7 separate regions of the Homo sapiens genome follow, and all the other regions are linked to region 3. Evidence: fine-mapped expression QTL. A gene starts in region 3. Each other region holds a variant in brackets. All regions are shown on one strand. Distances are between the middles of the regions. Region 1 overlaps SH3BP5 (SH3 domain binding protein 5). Region 2 overlaps SH3BP5 (SH3 domain binding protein 5). Region 3 holds the start of SH3BP5 (SH3 domain binding protein 5). Region 4 overlaps SH3BP5 (SH3 domain binding protein 5). Region 5 has its middle 40 kb from the start of METTL6. Region 6 overlaps SH3BP5 (SH3 domain binding protein 5). Region 7 has its middle 49 kb from the start of RBSN.

Region 1 (4,062 bases), 63 kb before region 3:
AGCCTATGCAACTGTGAAGGGATCTGGGAAGAGGAATATCAGCTCAAAGGTGGAAATCCTGGCATGTGACCCGGAACACCTGCCAATCTGCAGAGGTTGCCCCCAAGCCCAAGAAAACCAAATGGGCCCTTCCCTTCAGTGGCCACAGAGAAGGCACATATCAGCTGGCCCTCCCAGGGCCCTATGAAGCCCTCATGACCTCAGGAGTACAGGGCCATCTTGTATAGCCCCACAGGTCTTGCACTGCACAACTCCAAAAAGCGCTATTCCCAAAGTCTGTGGTATGAACGGTGCCCTGAGTTATACAGTGTGGAGGTCTGGGGATGCCACTCCTTGGGAGGCCACCCACTATCCACTGGGGCCCTGGGACTTAAAAATGAGAGATACACAAAGCAGAAGCATGGTTTGTTTATCTTTAAACAACAGATTAAATGACTTCTGAAATGCTTGCTTATAGGCTGACATGGGTCTCCAGCTGGGGTGGAAGAAGGGCAAAAAGGAAAAGTGGCCCTTCAGCTAATTTCTTGGAAGAAGCTACCTTACATTTTGTCCTTTTCATATCTATCGGGCTTTGGCTTGTGAACTTCCAAGATTTCCAGCCACCCCTTCCATTTTTCTCGAGATGACCCAGAAAAGTTGTTTCTAGCCCACGTCTAGCTCTGTGAGCATCACGCCCACTAGGGGGCAGGAGGCGCAAGGCCACACAAAGCCAAGCTCAGCCGAGAGTCTCAGGCTGCAGGGAGAGGTGCGTAAAGTCAACGCGGATTTGACTCTTGAAGTCATTTGTGTGCCAAGCTTTCTATTTAAGGAAGCACAAGGCCATCTTTAATTATCAGATCCCCCAGGACTTGAGCCACTGTGGCAGGTGACATTTAAAAGGGAAATCCTATTGGCATTAACCTGCTGACTTTTCTAATCCAGTCCCCCAGACGGCTTTCTCAAGGAGTCACCAAGACCTCTTGCAACCCCGTACCCGCGCCGTCCAGGGTCTTATTGGAGCTGCTGAAGCCACAGGTCAGCTCACCCACCCACCCTGCAGCAAACCAGCCCTACACTCGTTTTCCAGGCGCTGGGAATCTAGACAGAGAATGCAGAGGGGCACAATGGACCCAGGCTGGTGTGGGGGGATACCAGGAACATGAGCCTGGGCAGCCCAGGAGCCAAGCCTGGAAGGGGGAAGAGGTATCCAGGAACATTCTGCGTGACTTCTAAGAAACCCGATAGAGTTAGGCAGGGGTAACCAAGTACTGCTGAGCCAAGAACTGTCCCTAGCTGCTATGGTCTGAACATTTGTGTCCTCCCAAAATTCTTATGTTGAAACTGATCCCCAGTGTGAGGGTATCTGGAGATAGGGCCTTTGGGAAGTGATGAGGTAATGAGGGTAGAACCATCATGAATGAGATTAGTGACCTTATAAGCTCATGTACCCCTTCCACCGTGTTAGGACATGGAAAAGATGGTCATCTGTGAACCAAGAAACAGGCCCTCATGAGACACTGAATCTACCAATGTCCTACCTACCAATGCACTTCTCATCCTCCAGAGCTGTGAAAAATAAATTTCTATTGTTTACCAACTACCCTGTTTATGGTATTTTGTTTAGTATTTTGTCTTGGCCTGTACAGACTAAGGCACACCATTTCTGGCTCTGAGTAACGCAGTCAGAGAGGTGGTCATGAGAGCCAGTAAAGAACCCAATATAATGACATAAAACCCAGCAAGCCAAGCTGTGAGTAAGGATCACACACAGTCCGCTTCCTCTGTGCCTGTCAACTCCCTGAATCCCAGCCCAGAAGGCCTGTCGTAAGTACACACCTGATTCTGGTCTAATCCGCCATGACCCCTGCCTTCCTCCGACAGCACATACCCGAAGTGCAGCCCCCATTTAGGGCTGTTCATCAAGGTCTCCCCATCACAGATTCGAAACCCAGCCAGTATTGCTGGGGTTCCATGGGAGCAAACCCTGGAAAACCTCGTCCCTCTGGAAGCCTGAGTCCAGTCAAGACCCCCTGGGGATGACCCAAACCAGACAAACCTCAAGCAACATAAGGGAAGGAGCAGCTCTCGCTGTCACGGAGAGACACTGTGACTCATTCTGGAGCACTGGCTTCGTACCAAGCGCAGCCAAGAGATCATACGGAGATGACAACCTGTGATTTTCAGGGTGTTTTCAGGCAACATGCCTGGGAGTCGAGTCTGTTACCTCCGCTCAGGGGAAGCCAGCGCGCATGCACGCGCACACCCCCACAGCACACCCGGCCATGACTCATACCCTCTGAGTGGCGTGATTCAGCATCTCCTGCCAGGCGGAGTCGAACTGCCGCTTGTCATCCTCCAGCAGCCGCTGCTCGGCCAGGGAGATGGTCTCCTTGGCGGC[A/G]CGGAGCACCTCTGTGGCCCTCTGGAAGTCCTGCGTGGCTTTCTGAGCTTCCAGCTGAGCCTGTGTGAGAAAGAATCCTCATGAGGCCTCAGAAAATGGCAGGGGCTCCCCATGGTCCATTTTACCTTTCAAAAAATAAGCATCCCAAGGACCAGGACAAGCTCATCTCTGCCTCTTCACTCCTGGCACCCACAGGTCCTCATAGATGCCAGACAGGGCAATGGACCCCTGATGGGGGAGTGAGCAACAAATCAGTGAGCGAACAATTTCCACAGTTCTGGGCCCAATGGATGAGATAAACACATCAGCCCTTGGCCAGAACCTGACATGGCAAACCAGCCCATCGTGGGACAGGTACAGCCAACCCCACAGCCTTTCTCAGAAGCTCTGCCTCACTCGAGGCCTGTCACCTTCCCTGCCCAGATCTGTGGCTCAATTCATGGCAAGTCAGAACCAGGAAGGCCCCCAGAGATCATGGTCCAAAGACTTCACTCTATAGAAGGGGGACCTTAGCTGAGAGGACACAGCCTTTCCTGAGATCACACAGCTGACTAGATGCAGAGCTGTGCCAGACTCCAGCCAGTATGAGTTCCAGCCCAGCACTGTCACTCTGCCAGACAGTCTCCCACTCAACTCACACCCACTGACACCAGCGACAGGCCAAGTATGGCACCAGGCAGGCAAAGAGAAGGACCTAATTAATTAACACAACACGGTCCCTGCTTTCAAGGAGCATCAGGTGGGAGAACCAATACCAACTGTAGCTGACCACCACGTCTAGAGCTGCCCCCACTACATGTGTCTACTGATTGTTCAAAATGTGATTAATCCCAGCCAGGTGCAGTGGCTCACACCTGTAATCCCAGCACTATGGGAGGCAGGCGGATCACTTGAGGTCAGGAATTAAAGACCAGCCTGGTCAACATGGTGAAACCCCATCTCTACTAAAAACACAAAAATTAGCCAGGCATGGTGGTGGGCACCTATAATCCCAGCTACTTGGGAGGCTGAGGCAGAAGAATCACTTGAACTCAAGAGGCAGAGGCTGCAGTGAGCCGAGATTGCACCACTGCACTCCAGCCTGGGTGACAGAGTGAGACTCCATCTCAAAAAAAAAAAAAAAAAGTGATTAATCCCAATTGAATGTAAGACATCCCTAATCTTAAAGACTTAGTACAAAAAAAAAAGAATGTTAAATATCTCAATAATTTTTATTATATGATGAAATAATATTTTGGATATATTAAATTAAATTAAATATATTATTAAAATTAATTTCAGCTGGGTGCAATGGATCCCACCTCTATTCCAGCACTTTGGGGGGCCAAGGCAGGAGGACCACTTGAGGCCAGGTATTCAAGACCAGCCTGGGAAACATAGCAAGACCCTACTTCTGGAAAAAATTAAAAAATTATCCGAGCATGGTGGCACATGGCTGTATTCCCCACTCCTTGGGAGCTTGAGGCAGGAGACCGCTTGAGGTTACAGTGAAATACAATTATGCCGCTGCACTCCAACCTGGGTAACACAATGAGCCCCTGCTTCTTAAATAAATAAAATTTAAAGATTAAATTCACAGAGGCTGGGCACGGTGGCTCAAACCTGTAATCCCAGCACTTTGGGAGGCTGAGGCAGGTGGATCACAAGGTCAGGAGTTTGAGACCAGTCTGGCCAACATGGCGAAA
Region 2 (4,066 bases), 54 kb before region 3:
ATTCTAAATTTTTTTTTTTTCTTGAGATGGAGTTTTGCTCTTGCCACCCAGGCTGGAGTGCAATGGTGCGATCTCGGCTCACTGCAATCTCCACCTCCTGGGTTCAAATGATTCTCCTGCCTCAGCCTCCCAAGTAGCTGGGATTACAGGTGCCCGCCACCATGCCCAGCTAATTTTTGTATTTTTAGTAGATACGAAACAGGGTTTTTTAGTAGATACAACGGGGTTTCACCATGTTGGCCAGGCTGAACTCCTGACCTTAGGTGATCCGCCTGCCTCAGCCTCCCAAAGTGCTGGGATTACAGGGGTGAGCCACCACACCCAGCCTCATTCTAAACTTCTATTAAACACCACTTGCCGGTGCTGCAAACTCCTGACAAAGAAGTACCAGTCAAGGCAGCGCAGCCTTAGCTCTCCACACAAATCAAGGACACAGTGGCCACCGTCACACAGGTCGGGATGGGCAGGGAGGTTTGGAGGGTATAAGATTTGCAGAGACCGCCAACGAGGAGCAGAGGAGAAGTGGGGAGAAGGCCTGCTGCTGTAGGAGCTGAGCTCATCCCCAACCAGAGTCCCGAAAATGGGGTCTAGAGAGGCTGATCCTGAAAGCCCTCATGCCTGCCTGAGCTTAGCCTCCTACCCCCCACCACACAGTCTCACCTGCTCTGAGGAACAACTTGGACCCCATTCACAGGGGAGCCAGGAGCATGAATGAGATGCAGAGAGGCACGGGGCAGGCAAAATTTCCCCACCTAGAGGCACAGGCCTCCTACTGCCTTCCCCACTCCCCTTTCTAAATGTCTTAGTACTTAAAATCCAAAAGGACTCTGGGGTTTACTTGGGAATGGTTGGGCTCAGTATGCATACACCCCCCCAGCACTTGGCCAAAGCAATGATGGAGCAAAAGAAGCTTCCAGAACCCCCTGGATGCCTGGACATGGATTGGGAGGAAGGAATGCCCCACTTTCTTCTAGAGAAAGTTGGAAAGATACCAGCCCAGGGCGAAGCAGGCTCTGCGTGAGGTGAGCAGTGACCCTGCAGGCACGGGGTGGCAGGACCCGGAGGAAAGAGAAGCCCCAGCCAAATGACAGGTCGGCCAGCTTCTACCCCTCGTGCTTCGCTGGAGGAATCTCACCCCCACAGGGCCCGGGGCAAGGCCCCTGCTCGATGGGGGCAACCACTTGGTAGGAAGCCTCTGTCCTTTTTAACTTGATACTGTTTTGTCCTTGCCTCTTTACAGTGAATGTCACAGGCACTGCTGGAAAGAACCCCTCCCCCGGCTAGAAGCTCATGAAGAAAAGCATCAGAGGCCTTTCCAACCCAACCGAGGAAGATCAAAAACCTTTGAAAACATGGTCAATAACCCCTGGGGGGTCTCAGTGAGGGAGGGATGGGCAGGACAAACATCAAAATGGACAAGAGACAAGGATGTCTGTTCTCAACTTTATTAAAGCCGTGGTTTTCTGCCTATATTCTGAGGAATCCCAGGGACCGGCAGTTCATGGACTGCCTGAGTCCTTCCAACCTGCAAGCTGCCCATCCTGCACTCCCCCTTCAACTCCTGAATGATGCTTCATTGAAGAGGACCAGAGATAGAAACTGGCCATTCTGATAGCACCGTTTCACCCCTGAGGATGTCTGGCATATATTTTAATCCAAATTATCTCAGAACAAAGTTTCCTTTGAAAACATCTTCTGGAGAGAATTCCATTAAGCCCATTTAGTTCCTTGATTATTTTTCACACCGAGGTGCTTCTAATTTTTCATTTTTATTTAGTCAAAATTATTCTCCTGAGGATTGATTCCTTTCTATTTCAAATAGATTTGATTGAATGAACAGTTTCATCCATATCAAATTTTACTAAATGTAGCTTGTGGCACGGAGTTTTTCATTATTTCTATCAAAATTTTCCTGAATCAGTTTCTTAAAGATCTAAAAATTTGGTGAGGCGTGGTAACTCATGCCTGTAATCCTAGCACTTTGGGAGGCTGAGGCGGGCAGATCACCTGAGGTCAGGAGTTCAAGACCAGCTTGGCCAACATGGCGAAACCCCATCTCTAATAAAAATACAAAAATTAGCTGGGCCTGGTGGCAGGCACCTATAATCCCAGCTACTCAGGGGGCTGAGGCAGTAGAATCATTGGAACCTGGGAGGTGGAGGTTGCAGTGAGCCGAGATCGCACCACTGCATTCCAGCCTAGGCAACAAGAGCGAAACTCTGTCTCGGGAAAAGAAACAAACAAAAAAAAAGATCTAAAAATTTGTCAAACATAGGGGACAT[C/A]ATTTTTTCTCGGTCCCAAAGGTTACCATGTACAGTCTGAGCCATTATCAGTTTAATAGTGTTATTTCTCCCAACAATGTATATTACAAAGTAAACAAGAAATCTATGGTATGTATCTACCCTTAGAGAAATGAGAAAACCACGGGCAGTCTTAAGAGAGACAGCACCTGCAGCTGTACCATAGACAGACTACAGAGCCCTTTAATATGTCGGAGCAGCAAGAGAGCTTTGCAGGGTTAGAAATATCAAGGTCAAACGGTTTTGTTCCAGCCTGAGCTTAAAGGGGAACTTTTAAAAAATAAAAATGTAAAAGCTACTACTTGCTTCAAAATACAGCTAGGAGTAAGAAGGGAGAGCTGGGGGTGGGGGTAAAGATGAAACAGGATTGCCCCAAGGTTGGTAATAGAAGCTGGATGACAAACATCCAAGGTTCCATTACACTGTTGTCTATTTTGCATATATTTGAAAGTTTTGACCCCAGTTTCTGGCAAGACAATCCCTACTGCCAACAGTCATCCAGACTAACCAGGGGTGAGTCTGACTCAAGGGTTTCGGTTGGGGGCATCAGGGAAGGTTCATCAAGCACTGAGCCCACCTCTGCTTATCTTCAGTACTAGACACCAGCCTGCAGTTCACCTCTGGACACCGCATGTTCAGACACAGCACCCAGAGGGCTTCCCATTGCACTCAGGAAGCACCGGTTCCTCTGCCTTAAGCTGGCACTATTTGTCACCCTACAGAATCTCCCTAATTCATGTAAAAGCTGGCAGGAGGATGGTCTTGGGCCTTATGTTTTCACAGGGCACTACTTAGCCTGAGTCAGTGTGCCTCGGCTAGTTAGCCGACTGATGTCTATGACCTGTCCCCACACTTCCATCCTTTCACAATTACAAGCAGCTTACAGGGCCTGCCAGCTACACACAGCAGGCCTCCGGGAACGACGCATCCCAAATCAAATCCTTCCTGTTGCTGCAGCAACCCCATAGATGCCAGGCTCTTCCTGCCCACCCTAGCCAGAAGGGTGCGCCCACATTCCTCCTCATCCTCCTCCCGCTCTCACCTTCATGCTCTAGCAGTGTGCCACCGGCTAGAGAATCGACTGGCCAGGTGCAAGGCAGGGGCCTGAGCTGGGGGTAGACAGCAGTACCCAAAAGGAAAAAAACCCCACAACAGCACCCCAGGGTACCACCACCAAACCTAGACTCCTCACCCACAGAACCAAATAACAGGGTCTTTGCGCTCAGGGAGACGGAGACAATGTAGACCAATTGTTTTATTTTCTAGGAGAAAACTTCAGAGCCTAACAAATAAATTGGCCTGCTCAAAGCATCAAGCCTGGGTATTCTATCAGCCCCAATCCAAGCTGCCTTCCCTGCCAGCCAGCCACACAGCCATCCCCGACATCACACTCTCGCACTCTCTCTGTCCCCAAAACACACACGCAACATGCCCCACCTCTTAATTCTTCAAATGTGTGCAAACTCACAGAGCTCCTCCACTGCGGTGGGTTTCCCTGAGCTCAGCAGGGCTGTATCTTCCTCCCTGCACGTCCACTCACAATTCTCTTCCATCTCTGCCTTTGTCCCCCACCTACACTGTCATTCCCAGGACCCACAAAACACCAGCATCTCTTAAGACACACACACACCAATCAGGGAAGCTATTTCATCCTCCACTGGGATGCACGATGCAGACCCAGGCCACGAACCTGGTCATTGCCTGACATTGTGAGGGAGTGGAGAGCCCTGCTTTATGCCGCACGGTGGCAGAGAACTGGAATATTG
Region 3 (4,066 bases):
TCCAGTTCTCCCTGGTGAAGAAAAGAGGGAGAAAAAAAGACTTAAGGGATCCGTCTTTTGTTTCCAATATAACTCAGTCCATAACCTGAAAAATTACCCCAGCCCAATTTGCAGGAAAAGGGAAGAATCAGAATTAATTCTTACGGCAAACAGTTGAGGCTTGACTAGAAAAGCAAATGAATGTCGGCATTTCTGAAACCATTTTCTTGAGGGTGTCCCTTTTGACAATGTCTTCAGAGACATTTGGAATTTGTCAGAGGTCAACTATTCCAGGTACATGCCTTCAGGTAAACCCCACCTGTTACAAATGGTTTAATGGCCTAATCAAAACAGTACCATCTGCCTTGAGCAAGAACTTTGCTTAGAAAACAATAAAAGACAATAAGCAAGGCCAAGCCAAAAATATAAACCCAGTGAAATCATCAAGGGCAGAATTCTGGTATTAACTCACCAGAATTATTTTTCTGTAAAGGGTGAAAATCTTTTCACACTGCCAATTATTCAACCTACTTAGCTGGACGTTTTAAACTAGCTTTAATCCCATTCCTTTCAATAAACATTTACAAACTGACATTTTGTAAAAAAAGTATCCAACATGAACTTAACTCATCATTACTATGCAAACAAAGGATCTTGCTAACATAATCCCATACCAGTAACACACGATTTATTCCAAACCAATTACTTTAATTAATAGCATTCCTAATGCAAGGATTTTTTTTCCACCTGATCTTTATCTTGCTAAGCTGACAAAACAATTCATTTAAACCCCAACCACTGAGTTAAGTGAGCTTTTAAATTGATCTGTGCACTAAAAAACCAATTAGGTATCCAGAAATTACAGAGCATGCTTAAAAGCAATTTTTTTAAAAAAATGATTTATTGAAAAGGTAGAAAAAAAACGGGCCTTAGAAAGGGATTTGCTCTGCTTTTTGCTTAGGGGTGAAGAGGTGAAACTGTCACTCCTAGATCTCGGCTTGGAAATTGTTTTTTAATCATCTCTCTTGGAAATGGAGGCACAGCCAGCCAGCCCAATCCCCTCGCCGCCTCCACGCGTCAGCTTTGCGCATCAGTTGTCCCCGATTTCTTTTCATGCCCAACCTCACAACAAGGAAAAGCAGGGTTTTAAGCAATTTCAAGCCAGGCAGAACGTTGAGCCAGTGATGACAATAAGCCGCTCAGTTCGCTAACAATCAATCAGAGAAGGAAAACGGCTCAGGCCGGGCACCTTGGCAAGTGAGGACTCTGCACCCGGGGCACCGGTGCCAGCCCGCGCTGCAGGGCAACGCCCACCCGCCCACGGTGCCCGGCGCCCACGCGGGCGACACCTCCTCGCAGAGCCTGGACGCCGTGCCATGCCCGCGGTGCCGCGGCCGGGCAGGGGTACCCCCGAGGATACCATGGCGCCCCCGCCCCCTTTTTCCCTTTGTTGCACATCCACCCGAACCACCAGGCACGCTGCACCGACCCCGATCCTGCTACGGGTCGGCGGGGGACTCCCCGCAATAGAGTCAGGCCGCATCCACGCGGGCACTGTAGCCTCCTCATTGTGGAGACGATGAAACGGAGCATACAGACCGTCTCCTGCCACCCTATGTGGCCGCCAGTCCCCGGACCACAGTTACTGGGGGCTGCGAAGTGGCTGTACGCGTAGACACCGACCTCCGTAGCAGCCCTCGCGAAGCCCGGATGCGGGGCGACCCCGCGCGCCCTACCTGGATCCGGGGATCCACCTCTTCTTCCTCCTCCAGCCCCTGCTCCATCCCCTCTTCCTCCTCCTCCTCCTCGTCCCGGGCAGGCGGCAGGATTTCGGCTGGCTCCTCCGAGCGGCTCCGCTTCAGTGCCGCGTCCATGCAGGCAGCCGGCACGCGCGCCGCGCAGTGGGCTCCGGAGCGCCCCGGGGGTCGCGGCTGCCACAGGCTGGGCTGGAGCCGCCTCGCCACAGCCGGGCACGGTCGGGGAGCCGCCGGGGCCGACACCCGGGAGACGCAGCTCGCCGATGCGGATACCTCCGGCCGCGGCGGAGCAGAGGAAATGGGCGCGGCCGCCCCCTTTCTGCCGCGGCAGTCAGCGCAGCGCCCGCTCCGCCCCCGTCCCGCCCCGGCCTCGCGTTCCGCCGCCAGTCCCAGCTATCCAGGTCTCCGTCGCAAAACCCCAGCTCCCTCCACATCTCCAAGGTGGCAAAATAGGACAGCCCCCACCCCCTTGTAACTTAGCAGCTCGGATATATCTCAACTACGTAACGCAAGCCTCCCGCTTTCGGGAGTCCCCTCCTCCAGCCCTCCTCCGAGGCTCGTTGTTTGTGTGGTAGGGAGGCGTGGGTGTTTTCACACTGAAGTCGCCTTCTGAAGCCTACGCTCAGTGACCCTGGCCCTCAGGACCAAGACTTGCCGAAACCCTATACCCAAAGCACACTCATCCTCTTGAGCGAACCTTGGGAATGGCGGAGGTTCCGTGCACTGATGCATTGCCGAAGGCTGCGGCCTCTCTGGGCGAGCCCCATACCGAAACACAGAGGTGCGGCGGTCCTACCTGAATAGCCAGGAGCATGGAGAATGCATTGAGCTGGGATTTAAGGAGGTGGCAAGTGTAACCCCTGTTGATGGGCACACTCTGGCCAAGAATTTATGAATTAGTGAGACTTTCTGCCCACCATCAACAAGTAGGGAGACAGAGTTGGCCTGGCAGACACAGCATCCGAAAAGGCCAAACTGAAGAGGCACGTGTGTGTGCTTTTATGAAATGTCAGGGCCACTGTGATGTCAGGGGAACGCAAAGGATGACCTTGGCAAAGCAGATGAGCACATGGCTGCTCACGTCTCCTTGCCTTGAGAAATGCAGAACGTGCACATGTCCTACACGGAGGCCTGTAGCCCATCGGCTCTGAGTTTGGAGGACAAATTTGCTTGAGAAAGGAGCTTCTTTCTGAGAACCTATCATCAAAGCCACCTTACAAAACCTGGGTCTGGCACAACGTGGTGGCTCGTATCTGTAATCCCAGCTCTTTGAGATGCCAGGACACAAGGATCACTTGAGGCCAGGAGTTCAACACCAGCCTGGACAATACAGCCAGACCCCTTCTCAAATGAATAAATAGTCCTGCTCCTGGTGGTTTTATCAGAAACTAGGCTAGAGGGTTACTCCTTGGGCAAGGCACCACCCCATACACGCTGGCACTGTAGTCCACTGTCAAAGGAAATTTGTCCTGTCTCCTGGAGGTAGTGCCATGGTTTGTTTCTAAAAAGGTCAGACCTGTTCATTGCTCTTTAAATCAAGGATGAGTCAGCAATTCTGTGAGAGGTGCTTCAAAGCTCCTTGCTAAAGACATAGTTGCTTTTGGTTTTCCAATGATAGATGAAGCCAGGAACAAGATAGCCATAGGGGTCACTTTGGAACACAGGAGCCACCAACCTTCTCTGGTGGCTTGGAATTGAGCCTCCAACTTTGCAGGTACATCCTAGCTCTGAATGAACTGAGAGACAGAGTTTGAAATAAACAGAACTCTGGGGTCAGCCCTGACTATGATAAATGCTTCTCAGCTAGCAGAACCCTATCCTCTCCATTCTAAATGGCAAACTCCAAACTACATTCCTGCTTAAGCTTAGGTCAAGAGCAAAATACATCTATGAGACATAGGCCAACTGCTCAAGAACATCAGTTCAGACTTTTGTTGTCTTATTTTTTGGAGATCTGGGCCAGCTATAGTGTTAATCCTAATAGTCTTTCTAAAGATAAAATGAGAAAAATAAATAAACCACAGGCAGTACTATATACAGTCAACCCTCCATAGCCTCTCAGGTTCCACATGTGTAAATTCAACTAACCACAGATAGAAAATATTTGGGGGAAAAAAACACAACAATTAAAAAAATGCATATTTAAAAATACATGGCCAGGAGTGGTGGCTAACACCTGTAATCCTAGCATTTTGGGAGGCTGAGGCAAGGAGGATCACTGGAGGCCGGGAGTTCCAGACCAGCCTGGGCAACAAAGCGAGACTGCCTTGCTCTCTAGAAAAAAAAAAAATACAGTATATGACAACTATGTACATATTTGCATTGTATTA
Region 4 (4,066 bases), 74 kb before region 3:
CGGCCAGGGCCCAGGATGAATCAGCCAATCTGCACCATTTTTATGTCAGCAATAATTCCATCTCTTCCCTTTGAGCACTGTAGGGAGAGCTGCTTCATCCGGTTCTCCAAGGCCTGGCCCTCAGGGGAGGTGCTGCTTTGGCTCTTACTGCTGCCACCACTGCCACTGCTACTGCTGAGGCCCCGGTTGTTGTTGGCTTTGTCACTTGTTTTATTCTCTGCCCCTTCTGCCCTGTCTCCTATAGAAATACAAGGATTATCAAAAGTGAGTATTGACAATTCTGCCCTGTCTCCTATAGAAATACAAAGATTATCAAAAGTGAGTATTGACAATTCTAAGTCACTTGAGCTCAAACCAGTCAGCTAACTCAGCCCTGTAGAAGTCCCACTGTTACCTACCGTGCCTATCAGAGAGGTTCTCAGTACATAATCATTTACTGCTTTTATTCCTTGTGATGTTTTATATATTCCTTAGCTATAGAGATGAAATTTGCCATATTCACTTTATTGCTGAGAAACAAACCTCTCTACTATGTGCTTGCCAAGGAGACTGTTCTGATGTGAGACATAGGACCTAAGCTCTACTTTATAGAAGCTGAGTGGAGCCAGGAGCCCCCCCAGAACAGCACTTGGAAACAACCTCAGTGATCAATACTGACAGCACAACCACAGAGACCTGGTAATGCAGCATGGGGGCCCTGAGACCTGGCAGAGGTATGGAATGGCACAACAGTCAGGCTACAGAGGCAGTGTGGCATCTGGGACGGGGTGAGAAGGCTGCTACTCACCTCGTTCTACTTCACATTCAGGGGAGGAGGCCCCGCTGCATTCACTTCGAGGGCCCAACACTGGGAACATCATCCCAAACTCTGACAGGGACACAGGGCTGGGCAGATCCAGGCTGCCAGGCCTCACAACCGCAGGGAACTGGTCAGGCATCTCAGACGGGCTTGTTGGTCCTGAACTAAAGCTGGACACGGACTGGGTTTCCGAGTCATCTTCAGACACAAAGTTGCTACAGCTGTCATCTTCAAAGGCCTCCGAGGCCACTAAGTTGAGAGAGAACACCAGTCACATGGGTTCTGTCACCTCCTCAAACACCACAAGTGCTTGCTGCTGGCAGGCAGCTAGACACAGCATGGGGGACTAAAGAGTCTCTACCTCTGTGAGTGCCTAATGAAGGAATGTGACTTCCCAAGCCTGAATGACCAGCCTCTAAAGCAGCTGGAAGGGAAGCAGCTGGCAGCAGGATCCCATGGATATTAAGCGCCCTTCCAATAACCTTATAACCCTGCCAAGAAATCAGTGTCACCAGACACCACCTAAAAATGGAAGATTAATTCAGCCACAAATTAGGACCTTTACTCCACCTCAGTCCCCCAAATACATCCTCATGTGCACAGGAAGAGGTTCTAGTCCTCTGTAACATATCCCAAACAAAGCCAGCTGGACTCAGGCTTCTTTCTTAGGGCAATAGAAGCAAGAGCTGCTAGAAGAAACAGGCCAGCATGGAACATCTGTTGGGACCTTTGTTATCTCCAGGTAACTTCTGATCTCATAAAGAACACACTCAAAGGCTACCCACATCACCATTTGCTGCAAAAGAACAGAAATCCTTTACAATGCTCTGTAGCCACATTATTTGGTAGACCAAAGTAACAAGGCCCAGACACATGTTATTCCCATGGTTTCAAAGCCTCTTTGGCCTTTAGCGGTTTTCCCTCAGCCTGCCCACAATCCCACTCCTTATTAGAACTTTCCTACTCCATTTTTCCCCCCCTTTCTCTTTAAAAACAGCCTTGTAGCATTCCATAAAGGTTTCTTATAAATGATAAATACTGTAATGTTGGGGACAGAAAATGGGCTCAGACCTGAATTGAATCCCTAACTCCACTACTTGCTGTGTGACCTTGGTCAAGTTACTTTACCTCTGTAAGCTTCATGATCCTCTCCATGCAGGGTTTGAGATGATGTATATATTAAAGTACCTCATACATAGTAGTTGTTCAAATGATAGTTTCCTTTTCCTTTACCTTGAAC[C/G]TAGTACTTAAATATTTGTTGAAGGAATTAACTCCTGAGGAAGGAGCTTGGGAAAGAGCCGACAGGGATTATTGCACAGGTAAGGAAAAGAAAGGAAGTATGCAAAGACAGCGTTGGGTGGGTTTTCTTGATGAGCATGACAGAAACCAAGTCAAACTTCTATCAGTTTTCCAGGGGGAGGCCCTGGGAAAAGAGGTCTCTATGGTCAGATGTCAGTAAGAGCCACCATTTGCTGAGTGCTTCTTGGGTGTCAGGGGTTGATTCATGTAAGCTGAACCACCACCCTACACAACGGATAGTATACAGTAGATAGCGTCATACTCCCCATTTTACAGGTGAAGAAACTGAAATACAAAGTTAGGCCCTTGCCCACATCATGCCTTAGTAATGATGTAAAGGTAGCTTTGAATCAAATCTGATTACAGCTCTTCTTTCCTGCAGGACTTCTCAGCCTTGAATGTTCAAATGTATACTTTGACTCTCAAAGAGGAGTGAAGGTGTAACATTTTCCCAATTTATTTGACCACAGAATCCTGACTTTGAGGAACACTTAGTACCTTCTTAATGAACACAGTGTTCCATAAAACATGGGAACCCACCAGAAATAGCCCTCAGGCCTGCCCAACTCTGAGACCTTTCACTGATGGCCAGAGAAAGTGAGGACCTTGGGAAACAAATCACACAGTCTGATATCTCCCCACATACCCAGTGGAGCCCCTGACTTACCAGAAATGGCATCAGGCTCAGGTTTGCTCCCTGGCAGATCCTCCACAGATGTGCTGCTGCCCTCAGCACCAACACCGCATCCCCGAGGCCCCATGGCACTGGAGCGCCGCCGCTCGTGGATCTCATCTGAGATCATCTCCAGGTTCTTCAGGGCCATCTTGTACTCGCCTTTTGCCAGGGTCAGTTTGGCCTGCAGGTCATCCACAGTCTTTTTCAGTTGCTGATCAAGAGAACAGGAGACTAAGTGAAGACTACCCTGCTAGCCTTAAGATGCTTTCTGAATGACAGGTTCAAGTACATTTTCTGCCCATCATTCTACTTCAAGGAATTTTCCAAGACATGACTGAAGACCTAATTACCATTGTAACTGCTATTCATTCACCAGACAAAATCAGCCACCACCATCCCCAGATCCCATCCAGGTGACAACCTCTAATATCCAAAAACTCTCACTGGTGGAACAAACCCCATCAGGGAAGCAAAAATGGGCATCAGACACACCAAAGTCCCACAGTCTAGACATCTGGTTCCCAGTACAGTGGTTCTCAAAGTTGAGCTTGCATCAAAATCCCCTTGGGTGTTAAGACTCAGCTCACTAGACTCCAACCTCAGAGTTTCTAATTCAGTCGGTCTAGAGTGGGACCTGGTCTATCAGGTCTCCAGGTGATGCTGATGCTGCTGGTCCTAAGAGCATGCTGTGAGAACCACTGGCCTAGTACAACAGAGAAGGTGACTGAATGGCAGTTACAGAGGTTCAGAGACCACTGAAGACCCAACCGAGACAATTTTGAGGTCTGAAAACTCAGTAAAGCCTGTCTCTCCACTTTCCCCTTATAGCAAGTGGCCCATGTGATACTCTGCTACCCCAGAAAAGTGAAGCTTTGAGTGCAGAAAAATCTCATCAGTGACGAAGCCCAAAGCTACACATACCTCGAGCTGCACATAGTACTTTGCCTTGAGTTCAAAATAAGGCCTGCAGAAGACAGGAAGGAAAGCCATCAGAGTAATATAATACAGTGACCACAGTCAACTCCACAAGATGAACAAGAGGCATCAGCTACCACTGGCCAGGTCGTCCTTCCAATATTTAGTAAACTCTTAACAAGGCCGTGACATGTCAGTGATGCTCCTAGCTCTGGAGACTGACAGACACCAGATGGAACGACTGGGCTCACCCAGGGCTATATTAACAGGAGGCCCATCTCAAGACACGGGGAACCCACACACACATATCTTGGGGACTCTGCAACTTAGCTCATGTTCCTCCTCTGTGGGAAGGCTGTTCAGAGCCTCACAGGTTA
Region 5 (4,066 bases), 55 kb after region 3:
TGTGATACAAAGAACAACATATGCCAATTAGTAGCTTATGTTCAATTTAGGAACTGCCCCTTCTTTTTTCCTTTAAAAACCCACTTGTTGGCCAGGCGCAGTGGCTCACACCTGTAATCTCAGCGCTTTGGGAGGCCGAGGTGGGCGGATCATCTGAGGTCAGGAGTTTGAGACCAGCCTGGCCAACATGGGGAAAACCTGTCTCTACTAAAAATACAAAACATAGCTGCGCGTGGTGGTGCACGCCTGTAATTCCAGCTACTAGGGAGGCTGAGGCAGGAGAATTGCTTGAACTCGGGAGGCAGAGGTTGCAGTGAGCCAAGATTGTGCCACTGCACTCCAGCCTGGGTGACAGAGCAAGATTCCATCTAAAACAAACAAACGAACGAACAAAAAAACCCCACTTGTTGACTGCTTGAAGCCAAGAGTTCAAGACCAGCCTGGTCAACATAACAAGACCCTGTCTCCAAAAAAACAAAAACAAAAACCAAAAAATCCACTTGTAAGTGCTGCTAATCACAGCATATATTCAGGGCAACTTAACTTGAATCTGTGTCTCCTGGGCTGTAGCCCTCAAATTTGGCCCAAATAAACTCTCTGCTTACATTAATTTTGCCTCAGTTTATTCCTGTAGGTGAACCAATAAAAAAGAGCTCTTAGAATTGTAGTGTTACCAGAAAGGGATCCCAATCCAGACCCCAGGAGAGGGTTCTTGGACCTTGCACGAGAAAAGAATTTGGGACAAGTCTGCAAAGTGAAAGCAAGTTTATTAGAGAAGAAAAGAAACAAAAGAATGGCTCCTCCATAGGCAGAGCAGAGGCATGGGCTGCTCTATGAGTAAACTTATGGTTATTTCTTGCTTATATGCTACATATGGGGTGGATTATTCATGAGTTTTCTGGCAAAGGGTGGGCAATTTCCAGAACTGAGGGTTCCTCCCCTTTTTAGAATATGTAGGGTAACTTCCAGGCACTGCCATGGCATTTGTAAATTGTCATGGTGCTGGTGGGAGTGTCTTTTAGCATGCTAATGCATTATAGCTAGCATATAATTGTTACCAGCAGCAAAGCCACATGGGGCTGCAGCAACTAGATGCCTGCTTCCTTGGAGGACAGAATTCAGCCAAGGGGCAGAAGCAGGTTTAAGGCAGAGGGAGAGATTGAGACAACTTTTAGAGCAGGAATGAGAGTTTATTAAAAAGTTTTAGAGCAGGAATGAAAGGAAGCAAAGTCCACTTGGAAGAGGGCCAAGTGGGTGACTTGAGAGATCCAAGTGCCCTTTTCAGCCCTTGACTTGAGGTTTTATACATGGGCATGGTTCCAGGGTTTCTGCTTCTCTTCCCTTAATTGTCCCCTTGGGGTGGGCTGTGTGTATGTGCAGTATGTTTACTGAAGTTGTACACATGCTAAGTTGAGGTGTGTTTCCATTACCAGTCAAGTGTTCCCAGAGGAAGGTCATACACCCATTAAACTCTGCTGTTTTGCCTCTTAGTGAACGTGCCTTAGTCCACTTGCCCAACTCCAAAGATCTTACCAGGAAGCTGCTGATTACCAGTTTT[C/T]GGTGTTTCCTTTTCTTTTTTTTTTTGAGACAGAGTTTCACTCTTGTCACTCAGGCTGGAGTACAATGGTGCAATCTCAGCTCACTGAAACCTCTGCCTCCCAGGTTCAAGCGATTCTCCAGCCTTGCCTCCTGAGTAGCTGGGATTACAGGCATGCACCACTACGCCCGGCTAATTTTGTATTTTTAGCAGAGATGGGGGGTGGTTCTCACCATGTTGCCCAGGCTGGTCTTGAACTCCTGACCTCAGGTGATCCACCTGCCTCAGCCTCCCAAAGTGCTGGGATTACAAGCATGAGCCATGGTGCCCAGTTAGTTTCAGGTGTTTTCTATCTATTGGGAGATTGTCTTTCTCTGGCACTGGCTACAACCAATTGTTATTTTAGAGAGACAGTTTAACAACTGCCTGACCATCATCTGATGATCACCTGACATTCCTGGAGACAGGGCCCTCCCCTGCCCTGCTCATGTCTGCCTAACTACCGATTCTAACATAATGAACAGTGAGGATGACCAGAGGTCACTTTCATTACCATCTTGGATTTGGCAGGTTTTGGCCAGCTTCTTTACTGTATCCTGTTTTATCAGTAAGGTCTTTGTGACCTGTATCTTGTGCCAACCTCCTATCTCATCCTGTGACTAAGAATGCCTAACTGCCTGGGAATGCAGCCCAGTAGGTCTCAGCTTTATTTTACCCAGCTCCTATTCACTTTGGTTCAAATGCCTCTGACAGTAGGGGCCAAGGGAAAAACTTCCCCTTTGTCCTCTGAAGGTTTACTGAAAAATCAACTCACAAAATGCAGATTAGTAGGAAAAAGGCATCAAAACTTATTAATGTGTACACAGGGGAGAATCAGAGTGATCACTCAATATCCCAGTGGGGCCCAAATACTTATATAGCCTTATTTGAGAGGGGAGTGAGGAGATGGGGAATATAGGTAATTCTGTTGAGGTACAATAAACGATTGCTAGGGAGAATGAATGGATCAGGGAACAGAGATTAGCTTGTAAATCGTTCTCTTTGAAAAAAAGATTTTTTTTTTTTTTGAGACAGGATCTTGCTCTGTCCCAAAGGCTGGAGTGCAATGGTGTGGTCACAGCTCACTGCAGCCTTGACCTACTGGGCTCATGTGATCCTCTTGTAACCACCCATGGGTTCACCTTGCCTGCTGCCTAGACAGAGCCAATTTATCAAGACAGGGGAACTGCAGTAGACAAAGAGTAATTCACACAGACCAGCTGTGCGGGAGACCAGAGTTTTATGATTACTCAAAAAAGTCTCCCTCAGTATTTGGAAATAAGAGTTTTGTTGTTGTTGTTGTTGTTGTTGTTGTTGTTGTTTTTGAGATGGAGTTTCGCTCTTGTCGCCCAGGCTGGAGTGCAATGGCGCAATCTCCACTCACTGCAACCTCCGCCTCCTGGGTTCAAGTGATTCTCCTGCCTCAGCCTACTGAGTAGCTGGGATTACAGGCACATGCCACCATGCCCAGCAAATTTTTGTATTTTTAGCAGAGACGGGATTTTGCCATGTTGTCCAGGCTGGTCTCAAACTCCTGGCCTCAAGTGATTCGCCCGCCTCGGCCTCCCAAAGTGCTGGGATTACAAGTGTGAGCCACTGCACCTGGCCAGGAAATGAGAGTTTTTAAGGACAACTTGGTGAGTAGGGGAAAGCCAGTGAACCAGGAGTGCTGATTGATCAGGTCAGAGATAAAATCATAAGAAGCTGAAGCTGTCTTCTTGCACTAAGTCAGTTCCTGGGTGGGAGCCACAAGATCAGATGAGCCAGTTTATCCATCTGGGTGGTGCCAGTTGATCCATCAAGTGCAGGGTCTGCAGAACATCTGAGCACTGATCTTAGGAGCAGTTTAAGGAGGCCCAAAATCTTGTAGCATCCAGCTGTATGACTCCTAAACCATAATTTCTAATCTTGTGGCTAGTTTCTTAGTCCTACAAAGGCTGTCTAGTCCCCAGGCAAGAAGGGCGTTTGTTTTGGGAAAGGGCTGTTGCCATCTTTGTTTTAAACTATAAACTAAGTTTTAAATTATAAACTACTTTTCTCCCAAAGTTAGTTCAGCCTACACTCAGGAATGAACAAATACAGCTCGGAGGTTAGAAGGAAGATAGAGTTGGTTCAGTCAGATCTCTTTCACTGTCTCAGTTATAATTTTGCAGTGGTGGTTTCACTCCTGCCTCAGCCTCCTAAGTAGCTGTGACTATAGGCATATGCCACCATGCCCAGCTAATTTTTTTTTTATAGAGATGGAGTCTCACGGTGTTGCCCAGGCTTGTCTCAAACTCTTGGGCTCAAACAATCCTTCCTGCTCAGCCTCCCAAAGTGCTGGGATTACACGCATGAGGCACCACACCTGGCCTTTTTTTTTTTTCTAAGTTTTTTGTTGTAGGTTGTGCTACATTTCCCAGGCTGGTCTCGAACTCCTGCCCTCAAGCAATCCTCCCACTTTGGCTCCCCAAAGTGCTCTTTGGAAATTGAGCCTGAGAGAAGAATATT
Region 6 (4,066 bases), 39 kb before region 3:
ATGAACCCTGAGTTGGGAATATGCAGTCCCACCAGGTTGGAAGCAGGGTATTCCAAGCTATGGGAATGTTTGTAAGTCAGAACCACTTGAAGCCCCAGAGACCATAAATCTCTAAGTCTTATCAGTCATTTACTTCTCAGCATGAATAATTTCATCAGATTCTTCAGGGTAGATTTTCATAGAAGTCACAACTGGAAGGGCTGGGGAAGAAGTAGAAAAGAAAGGAAGGAAAGCAGGGGCATCCTCTGAGTCAGGAAAGGAACAGAAGGTGCACCAAGAGTGCACAGCCGGGGCCCAAACCTCGTCACCAGGCAACATAAAAAGGCCAGCCTGTGTCGACAAAACTCGTAGCAGAAACACAACCTATGCTCTGATTTCCTTTCACTGAAAAATTAATCACTCTGCCACTCTTGCCAGGGAATGCCTGTGGTTTACAGAGGGGAAGGGGCTATCCATGTCCATGCAATCACTTTACTGAAAGCAGAGTACAGTTGAGAAGAAGGAAGGAAACATCTGAAGAGCATCATGGTTTCAGGGAACCAAACTCCACACCCTGTTTCCCCTCTAACCACTATGCTGTGGTGACAAACCACACCTGTTAGCTTCACAGAGAACACTGCCTGCCCAGCAGCACCAAGGGGGGCTCAGCCATGCCTCTGTGAATAGCAAAGGAGATAAGAAAAAGGGAGTTGCCCATGACAAACCTCCCAACTAACAAGGTGATGGAGGGCAGCTCCTCCAGCCCAGTGCTTCCTGGCTAAGACCTGCCTGCAACCAGTCCCCCACGCGGACTTCCTGCCACCTGCCAGACAGAATGGGGTTGAATGCAAATGGTTCATGGCATCACCAGAAAAGAAAACCTAAGCCAGGCGCGGTGGCTCATGCCTGTAATCCCAGCACTTTGGGAGGCCAAGGTGGGTGGATCACCTGAGGTCAAGAGTTTGAGACCAGCCTGACCAACATGGAGAAACCCCATCTCTACTAAAAATACAAAATTAGCTGGGCGTGGTGGCGCATGCCTGTAATCGCAGCTACTCGGGAGGCTGAAGCAGGAGAATTGCTTGAATCCGGGAGGCGGAGGTTGTGGTGAGCCGAGATCACACCATTGCACCCCAGCCTGGGCAACAAAAGCGAAATTCCATCTAAAAAGAAAAAAGAAAAGAAAACCTCAAGATCAGCAACACTCTCCCTGCTCCAGCCCCAGACGCCCGAGGCAGAGCCAGCCAAGCAGGAGGTGCAACCCTTCTGGCAGAAGCCCAAAAATCTACTTGTGTGTGTCAGGAGCCTTTGACCTGGGTCAAAAGCTGCAACACATCTCCTTCCTGACCCCATCCTAATTCAAGATTCCAAGTTTCCAAAGTGCAGCTGCTTCTTTCCCAGAATCTTCAGCCAAGACTGTCAGGCAGGATGTGATCTTTCAGGCGAAGGAGAGTTAAGAGTCCATGCTCAGTTCTTGCCATAAATCTCCAGGAACTCTGCTTTGAGACAGATGCCCTGTCATTCCACTACGTGCCCTTACTTTGGGCAGCAGGAATGACGCAGTTCCCAGGAACTGGCCTGTGGCCACCCAGGGGGAATGTGACCAGGGCCACAGGGAAGAACGTCACTGAGCCAGACCTCCTCACCCAAAGTCCCGTGGCAAGAACTGCCCCCAGGCAGGCAAGTGGCTCTGCAGAGATAAAGTGA[C/T]GGGGAAGAAGGAAGGCATGACAAAGCCACACTGAAGTCCTAGCAGGAACAGGGCACCATGAGGGGAAAGTTCCCAAGGACTCCAGATTCTTGGAACAAGAGCTTCTCGGAACAAGAGCTTCTCAGTTACCCTAGCCAAGAAGAGGCAGGGGTGTGCAGGGAAATAACTGCACCAATGAGCTCAAAAACTGCCTTTAGTCCTAAAAGCCCATTCTCCTCAGATGTGCCAGAGTGTCTTTCAGATTTGCAAATAGTCATAAATGCCTCCTATGTGCCAGGCACCAGCCAGAACCAGGTAGACTTGGTTTAAACCTTCACTCCTGTCCTCGCAAGGTCTGTGATGTTAAAGTCCCCAAGCCTCAGTGATTATTCCCCCTCAGTATGATGAAAATAATATCGTCTTGCAGGCCGGACGCAGTGGCTCACACCTGTAATCCCAGCACTTTGGGAGGCCGAGGCAGGCGGATCATCTGAGGTCAGGAGTTAGAGACCAGCCTGGCCAACATGACGAAATCCTGTCTCTACTAAAAATACAAAAATTAGCCTGGTGTGGTGGTGTGCACCTGTAGTCTCAGCTACTCGGGAGGCTGAGACAGAAGAATCGCTTCAACCTGGGAGGCAGAGGTTGCAGTGAGCCGAGATTACGCCACTGCACTCCAGCCTGGGCGATAGAGCAAGTCTCCATCTCAAAAAAAAAAAAAAAAAAGAAAAGAAACAAGAAAAAGAAAAGAGTACCACTTTGCAAAAAGTACTCGCTGTAAGGATTAAATGAGATAATGTACATAAAAGACCTATGACCACAAACCCAGGCCCCTAGCACAGCCTCAACAAATCAGGGCTGCAGATAGCCCCTTAAGAGAACACAGACTCTAAGCCCCAGTTTCTTCTTCTGCAAAAGTAAGTGTGTGTGTGTGTGTGTGTGTGTGTGTGTGTGTGTGTGTGCGCGCGCATGTTTACGTAACTCCCCCTCATGCATGTAAAACACTTAGAAAGTGCCTGGTATACAAAGAGTGTTGAAATTACTCTTCTTCCTCCTCCCTTCCATCCTCCTTTCTTCCTCCCTTCCATCCAGTAAACTGTCACCGCCATACCACTGACTCCCATTTTCCCTGCATTCTGGATAGATAATTAACCAAGTCTGTTACAGTCTCCCTTCACATTCTCTTAGATTAGGCCACAACACCGGAAAGGTTTATGTAAAGGCCCAGTCTTTGGGCTCCAAGACTAGTTTCCTCATTCGTACTATAAGGCCAAAAGGGAAACAATGACAGCCCCCGCACAGAGCAGTGTGTGTGGCACCTAATACATCATTAGCGCTCAAAAAATGGCAAAAAATGGAGCTGCCATTAATGTAAGGACATCAATTTCTCAAACACAACCTAAGCCCCCTAACTCAAGAGCCTACCATGGCTACTTTGCAGCTTCTCAACCAAGTCTGAAGGGTAGGCTGAGGCGTAAGGCACCCTCAGCTGTCCATGCTGTTCCTTTCCTGACTGGTCCTTTAGCTCCCCTAAGCCTCTCTTTCCAAGGCTCTGGCTTCCTTACCCAAGTTCATATCTGCACTGACCCCTCCCCTCAGATCTCTGCTCTTCTGTCTTTACCAGCCACCCTTCCTCTTGTGCTTCGGAGTGTGCACAGTGTGTCCTTCCCCTCAAGCCTTTCCCCTCAAGCCTTCCTGATGGGCAGCATCTCCCGCCAACACACACACACACAGTGACACACTCCCTAGCTTCTTCCCTTTGCCATCTACATCAGAGCCACATGGTTCAGCGCACTAACAAATAAGCCTCTCCATGTGGCTCTTGGCAAATACAGTCAGTCCTCATTATTCACAGCTTCCGTATTTGTGAATTTGCCTACTTACTAAGCTTTATTTGTAACCCCAAAATCAACACTTGCAGTGTTCTTGGGGCCATCCATCGACATGCACAGAGTGGTGAAAAAATGAGCTACCTGATACATACGTTTCTAGCTGATGTCCAACAAGAAGCCACCCTGCCTTCTTGTTTTGGCTCTCATACTGTACACAAGTGTCCTTTCCTCGGTCCTTTTAGTGCTGTGTTTTTGACATTTTTGTGCTTTTTGTTGATGATTTTTCTCTATAAATTGGCCTCCAAGTATAGCAATTAAGTGCTTTCTAGTGCTCCTAAGTACAAGAAGGCTGTGATGCGCCTTATGGAGAAAATGCTTGCGTTAGATGAGCTTCGTTCAGGCAGAAGTTATACCACTGTTGGCTGTGAGTTCAGTGTTAATGAGTCAACAAAACGACACATGCAGAAAAAGGAAGAGGAAATTTGCCAATCTGAACATGAGTTCACTCAAGTAAGTGCTAAAGTAACATCCGCTGTGCATGACGAAGCTATGGAAAAGATGAAAACAT
Region 7 (4,066 bases), 180 kb before region 3:
TTTCTCATCCCACGAGGCCACTTTTCAGACTATCACATGGGGAGAAACCTTGGACAATACCCAGCTTTCAAGGACAGGACTCCCTGCGGCTTTCCACAGTGCATTGTGCCCCTGGTTTATTGAGACTAGAGAATGGGGATGACTTTTACCAAGTATATTGCTTGCAAACATTTTGTTAACAAGGCACGTCCTGCACAGCCCTACATCCCTTAAACCTTGATTTCATACAACACATGTTTTTTGAGCTCCAGGTTGGGTCAAAGTGGTTGGGGCAAAGTGGCTGGGGCAAAGCTACAGCCAATTCAAGCCAGCAATAAGGACCTTCAAAATGACCAAAATATGACTTGGTCCTTACCGTTGCTTTTACAACCTCAAAATCCTGCTCAGGTCACCTGCAAGGCACTCAGATTGTTAATCCATCAACTGCTCATAGAGATGACTCCAAACCACACAAACCCAAACTATCTGCATTTTTTAATCAATTCAGTTAAGCCTTATGGGCAAAACTTCAGAATTCAAGTAAAACAGAAGGTCTGTCTGAACATTTTCTTCAGTCAGCTGAAATTGGATGGAGGTTTCGTTGTGGTCCCTCAAGGAATAAACCATTATTTGACCCTTTCTCTTCCAGGTGAATTCTTACCCATTCCTAAGGTATAAGTCCTGTGTCACCTCCTCTCCTGAGAAGCTTTTTCTGTTGACCCCACCCAACTGTCCCTTCAGTCTCCTTGTAGTATTTGGAGGATACAAATCAGCACATATCATAGTGAAATGTGGTTTTACACATCAGAATCTCCTGCTATATTGTGAGGTTCATGGAGACAAAGACAATGTCTCATTTCTTTATTGCTGCATTTCTAGCCCCAAACACAGCATCTGATATCATACAATAGACATCCAACCAGGATTTGAAGAATGACTTACTGAATTATATTAATAAATATAACCTTTTCATCTAGGTGTTAGATTAGGAAGGGAATGGTAGATATCATGCCTTTTGCCAAGTTGATTAAATATTAATTGGAAAGTACTGCACGTCACATGAGCTTTAATCAAAAGACAATCTACATTTGTAACATCTAACTTTGACTTAATTAGGTTGATAACTACATATGCTATTCAGGACAGTAAAAAGACATGAGAAAATGAGAAGAACTATGGATCTAGAATGAAAGGGCGTGTATTTGAGTCCTAGTTCTGCTTCCAGCCTGTTGTGTGAGCTAAGACAAAAGCACAAGATCACAAGATGCCATGAATCACAATTTTCACCATTTATAAATGTGAATCTAGATAATACTGACTCTAGTCATCTCATAGGATTGTTGTATTGAATGTATAAGATGCTGTATTGGAAATAATTCACAAAGTATATGGATTGAACAAATGAGGTGTTTTATACTTAGCAATAGATAACAAGAAAAGCATAGGTTCTGGCATCAGATAGACAGTTTTGGACACATCTCCAACCCTCTCCAACCTTAACAAGTCACTTACTCTCTCTGAGTTTCTACTTTTGCATCTATAGAACGAAAGTATTAACACATACTAGCAGGGTTGTGATGAAGATTAAATGTGATAATACATACAAAATGCCTAATGCAGGGCTTCACACACAGTAGATGCTAAATAAATGTCTGTTTTCCTCCGTTCTTCCTAGTCTATTTGTATTTTTAGCTTCAATGTGTGGTGTTTAAGCTTCATCTGGAAAATGCGATCCTAAAATATCTACTGTACTATATTGCAATATATAGTGCTATCAGTTGTGAATAATTGGTTGTTGTGTTTATTAGAAAATAGTTGATATATACAAAACAAATGTTCTTGATAAAAGCAGAGACATCAAGGAAAATTTTATTTTTTAACAAAACTAAAAATAAACCCACTCGGCATGACTACTATTTAAAAAAAAAAAAAAGGAAAATAGCAAGTGTTGGCAAGGATGTGGAGAAATTGGAACCTTTGTCCACTGTTGGTGGGAATGTAAAATGGTGTAGCTGCTGTGGAAAACAGTATTTCTAATTCAAATATTAAGCTCTATAATGTTTAAAAATTGGTCTCTCATCTACTCACAGTATTTGCTTAAAGCTATAAATAATAGCTATGATTTAATGGAAAGACTAACACCACTAAAAGGTTTTCAAATGCTTGGCTATTTTATGACAAATGGGAATAATAATAATAACATATATACATATATACACATAATAATAATATGTATATATGTTATTATTATATTTATATATGTTATTACATATATATATA[T/G]AGAGAGAGAGAGGAAACTAAGAATGTTTAGCCCTGTGTCTGGCATATATAAAACTGTCAACAAATGTTAGATGTTTTTGTTACTATAAAGTTATGTAAATATTTTTTGTGACCTTAGAAAATCTGACTTTGTTCCATAAGTAAGGTTTTGCTGTGTAACCAATGCGTAAGTTATTATTTAACCACACATTCATAACATATATATTTTTTAAATATCTAGAATTTGGGAGTCTGACAGATTGCATTTTCCAAAGCCAGAAAACAATATCTCCCATTCCACATGCTCTGTGACCATGCCCCTCCTCCATGCTGGGGAGGAGTCAAAGTCTCCTCCTCTTGAATCTGGTCTGGACTTAGTGACTGGCTTGCAACCAACAGCATGAGAAAGCCATGTTACAGCCTGACTTCTGAGGCTGGGTCATGAGCCTTGCAGCTTCAGCCTTGGCCTCTTGGAGCACTCACTCTCAGGACAGACCCTCCCTGCTGGAGTACTTCCTGTCGGTTCCAGCTCCACCTGTCCTTGTGCAGTTCCAGCTAAGACGCCAGAGCAGCAGACATGTGAGAAGGGGCAGTGGGTCCTCCAACTCCTGCTTCTAGAGCCCAGACGGTCTAGTCTGAGACTAGTCAACCCAGCTGAGACCCCAGGCATGGAAGAAAGAGGCCCCTCTTTTGCTTCTTTTTCAGTGTCCCTACCCACGGAGTCTGTGAACATAATAAAATGATTATTTTACACAACTAAGTTGTGAGAGCTGTGGGGGACAGTGGGACTGTAAGTTATGGGTAACTGGAACAATGATTTAGTTATTTGTTCTTGTACACTTTCAACTTGAACTTCCAAATTTATGGGCCCCATTCTGAAACTGGTCTACATCTGCACAGAGATGTCTCTGCTGTTGAGTAGACCAATCTGACCAGCTTTTCAAGCCAACAACATTAAAAGCCATTCAGAGGACAACACATTGTGAAGTCGCCTTCTCTTGTGAGAAATGCATTAAAAAGAAACTAAGACCTACTAGAGTTGTTCTGTCAAATACAGGGGCTATTGAGCACTTGAAATGTGTCTGGTCCAAACTGAGATGTGCCTTCAGTGTAAAGTAACATTTAGAAGATAGTGTATAGAAAGAGTAAGATGTCTTATTAATTTTTATATTAATTACTAATGAAATGATAATATTTTAGATATATTGAGATAAATAAAATATATTATTAAAATTAACTTCACCTGTTTCTTTTTACTTTCTTTAAGATAGCTGCTATAAAATTTAAAATTATAAATGTCACTTGCACTATATTTCTAGCCCTGTACTAAAGGGTCTTTACAAAATATCTTGGTTTTATAATGTTGGCACAGTAAAGAAGGGGGACAAAACCATCTTTCACTCCAGACAGACAAGAATTTGCTTTATCCTGTTTGTCTGAAATTGGAGTCAATGGTCCTAATGGGTGGGATAGACCTTATGTCATTCTCCTAACATTGACTGGGCTCATTGAACCACAGACCAGGCAGAAAAAATAAAATAACACTTAAAGGACATTTTAAAACATAATAAAAATGGGAAGGAATATTTTCATTATTTCTAAATAAAATAGCAAAAATCCATCAATCATGTTCCTGAATGAATTTCTAACACCTAAGACTGTGCTTACTGAGGAAAAATAAATAGAAAAGTTGAGCAATTATCTTGTAAACGTAAAGAAATGTGACTCCATCTCAAAACAAAAAACAAAAAAACAAGAAATAGATGAGCTTACATGGGTCTCAGCAGCTACATTTTCCTCTGATTTCTGCTTATTTTCCAACACCCTA

Evidence for each region.
Region 1: its variant is fine-mapped to the expression of SH3BP5 in whole blood (TOPMed, PIP above 0.99).
Region 2: its variant is fine-mapped to the expression of SH3BP5 in whole blood (INTERVAL, PIP above 0.99).
Region 4: its variant is fine-mapped to the expression of SH3BP5 in whole blood (TOPMed, PIP above 0.99). The same link has a PIP of 0.9 or more in skeletal muscle.
Region 5: its variant is fine-mapped to the expression of SH3BP5 in whole blood (INTERVAL, PIP above 0.99).
Region 6: its variant is fine-mapped to the expression of SH3BP5 in whole blood (TOPMed, PIP above 0.99).
Region 7: its variant is fine-mapped to the expression of SH3BP5 in whole blood (TOPMed, PIP 0.99).

The regions. Positions count from the first base shown.
Region 1 is chr3:15,267,441-15,271,502 of GRCh38, forward strand. It overlaps SH3BP5 (SH3 domain binding protein 5), which reads right to left. Exons shown (of 9, transcript NM_004844.5): 4 at 2,273-2,437. Among named protein-coding and RNA genes, the nearest start is that of SH3BP5-AS1, 15 kb to the left of the region's middle. RefSeq lists enhancers at 503-1,042, 1,043-1,581, 1,761-2,960, 2,028-2,077, 2,138-2,437 and a silencer at 606-715. The variant A/G (reference allele first, on the strand shown) is at 2,378.
Region 2 is chr3:15,276,945-15,281,010 of GRCh38, forward strand. The region is part of intron 3 of SH3BP5 (SH3 domain binding protein 5); the gene reads right to left. Among named protein-coding and RNA genes, the nearest start is that of SH3BP5-AS1, 25 kb to the left of the region's middle. The variant C/A (reference allele first, on the strand shown) is at 2,283.
Region 3 is chr3:15,330,556-15,334,621 of GRCh38, forward strand. It overlaps SH3BP5 (SH3 domain binding protein 5), which reads right to left and starts at 2,031. Exons shown (of 9, transcript NM_004844.5): 1 at 1,716-2,031; 2 at 1-11. The coding sequence starts at 1,853. RefSeq lists silencers at 1,600-1,659, 1,740-2,139.
Region 4 is chr3:15,256,066-15,260,131 of GRCh38, forward strand. It overlaps SH3BP5 (SH3 domain binding protein 5), which reads right to left. Exons shown (of 9, transcript NM_004844.5): 6 at 3,696-3,738; 7 at 2,766-2,985; 8 at 788-1,048; 9 at 1-238. The coding sequence ends at 21. It overlaps SH3BP5-AS1 (SH3BP5 antisense RNA 1), which reads left to right. Exons shown (of 3, transcript NR_046084.1): 1 at 1-1,541; 2 at 2,569-4,066. Among named protein-coding and RNA genes, the nearest start is that of SH3BP5-AS1, 3.9 kb to the left of the region's middle. The variant C/G (reference allele first, on the strand shown) is at 2,040.
Region 5 is chr3:15,385,227-15,389,292 of GRCh38, forward strand. It overlaps a transcript of METTL6 not described here. Among named protein-coding and RNA genes, the nearest start is that of METTL6, 40 kb to the right of the region's middle. The variant C/T (reference allele first, on the strand shown) is at 1,559.
Region 6 is chr3:15,291,704-15,295,769 of GRCh38, forward strand. All of the region lies in intron 3 of SH3BP5 (SH3 domain binding protein 5), which reads right to left. Among named protein-coding and RNA genes, the nearest start is that of SH3BP5, 39 kb to the right of the region's middle. The variant C/T (reference allele first, on the strand shown) is at 1,687.
Region 7 is chr3:15,146,131-15,150,196 of GRCh38, forward strand. No RefSeq gene overlaps it. Among named protein-coding and RNA genes, the nearest start is that of RBSN, 49 kb to the left of the region's middle. The variant T/G (reference allele first, on the strand shown) is at 2,260.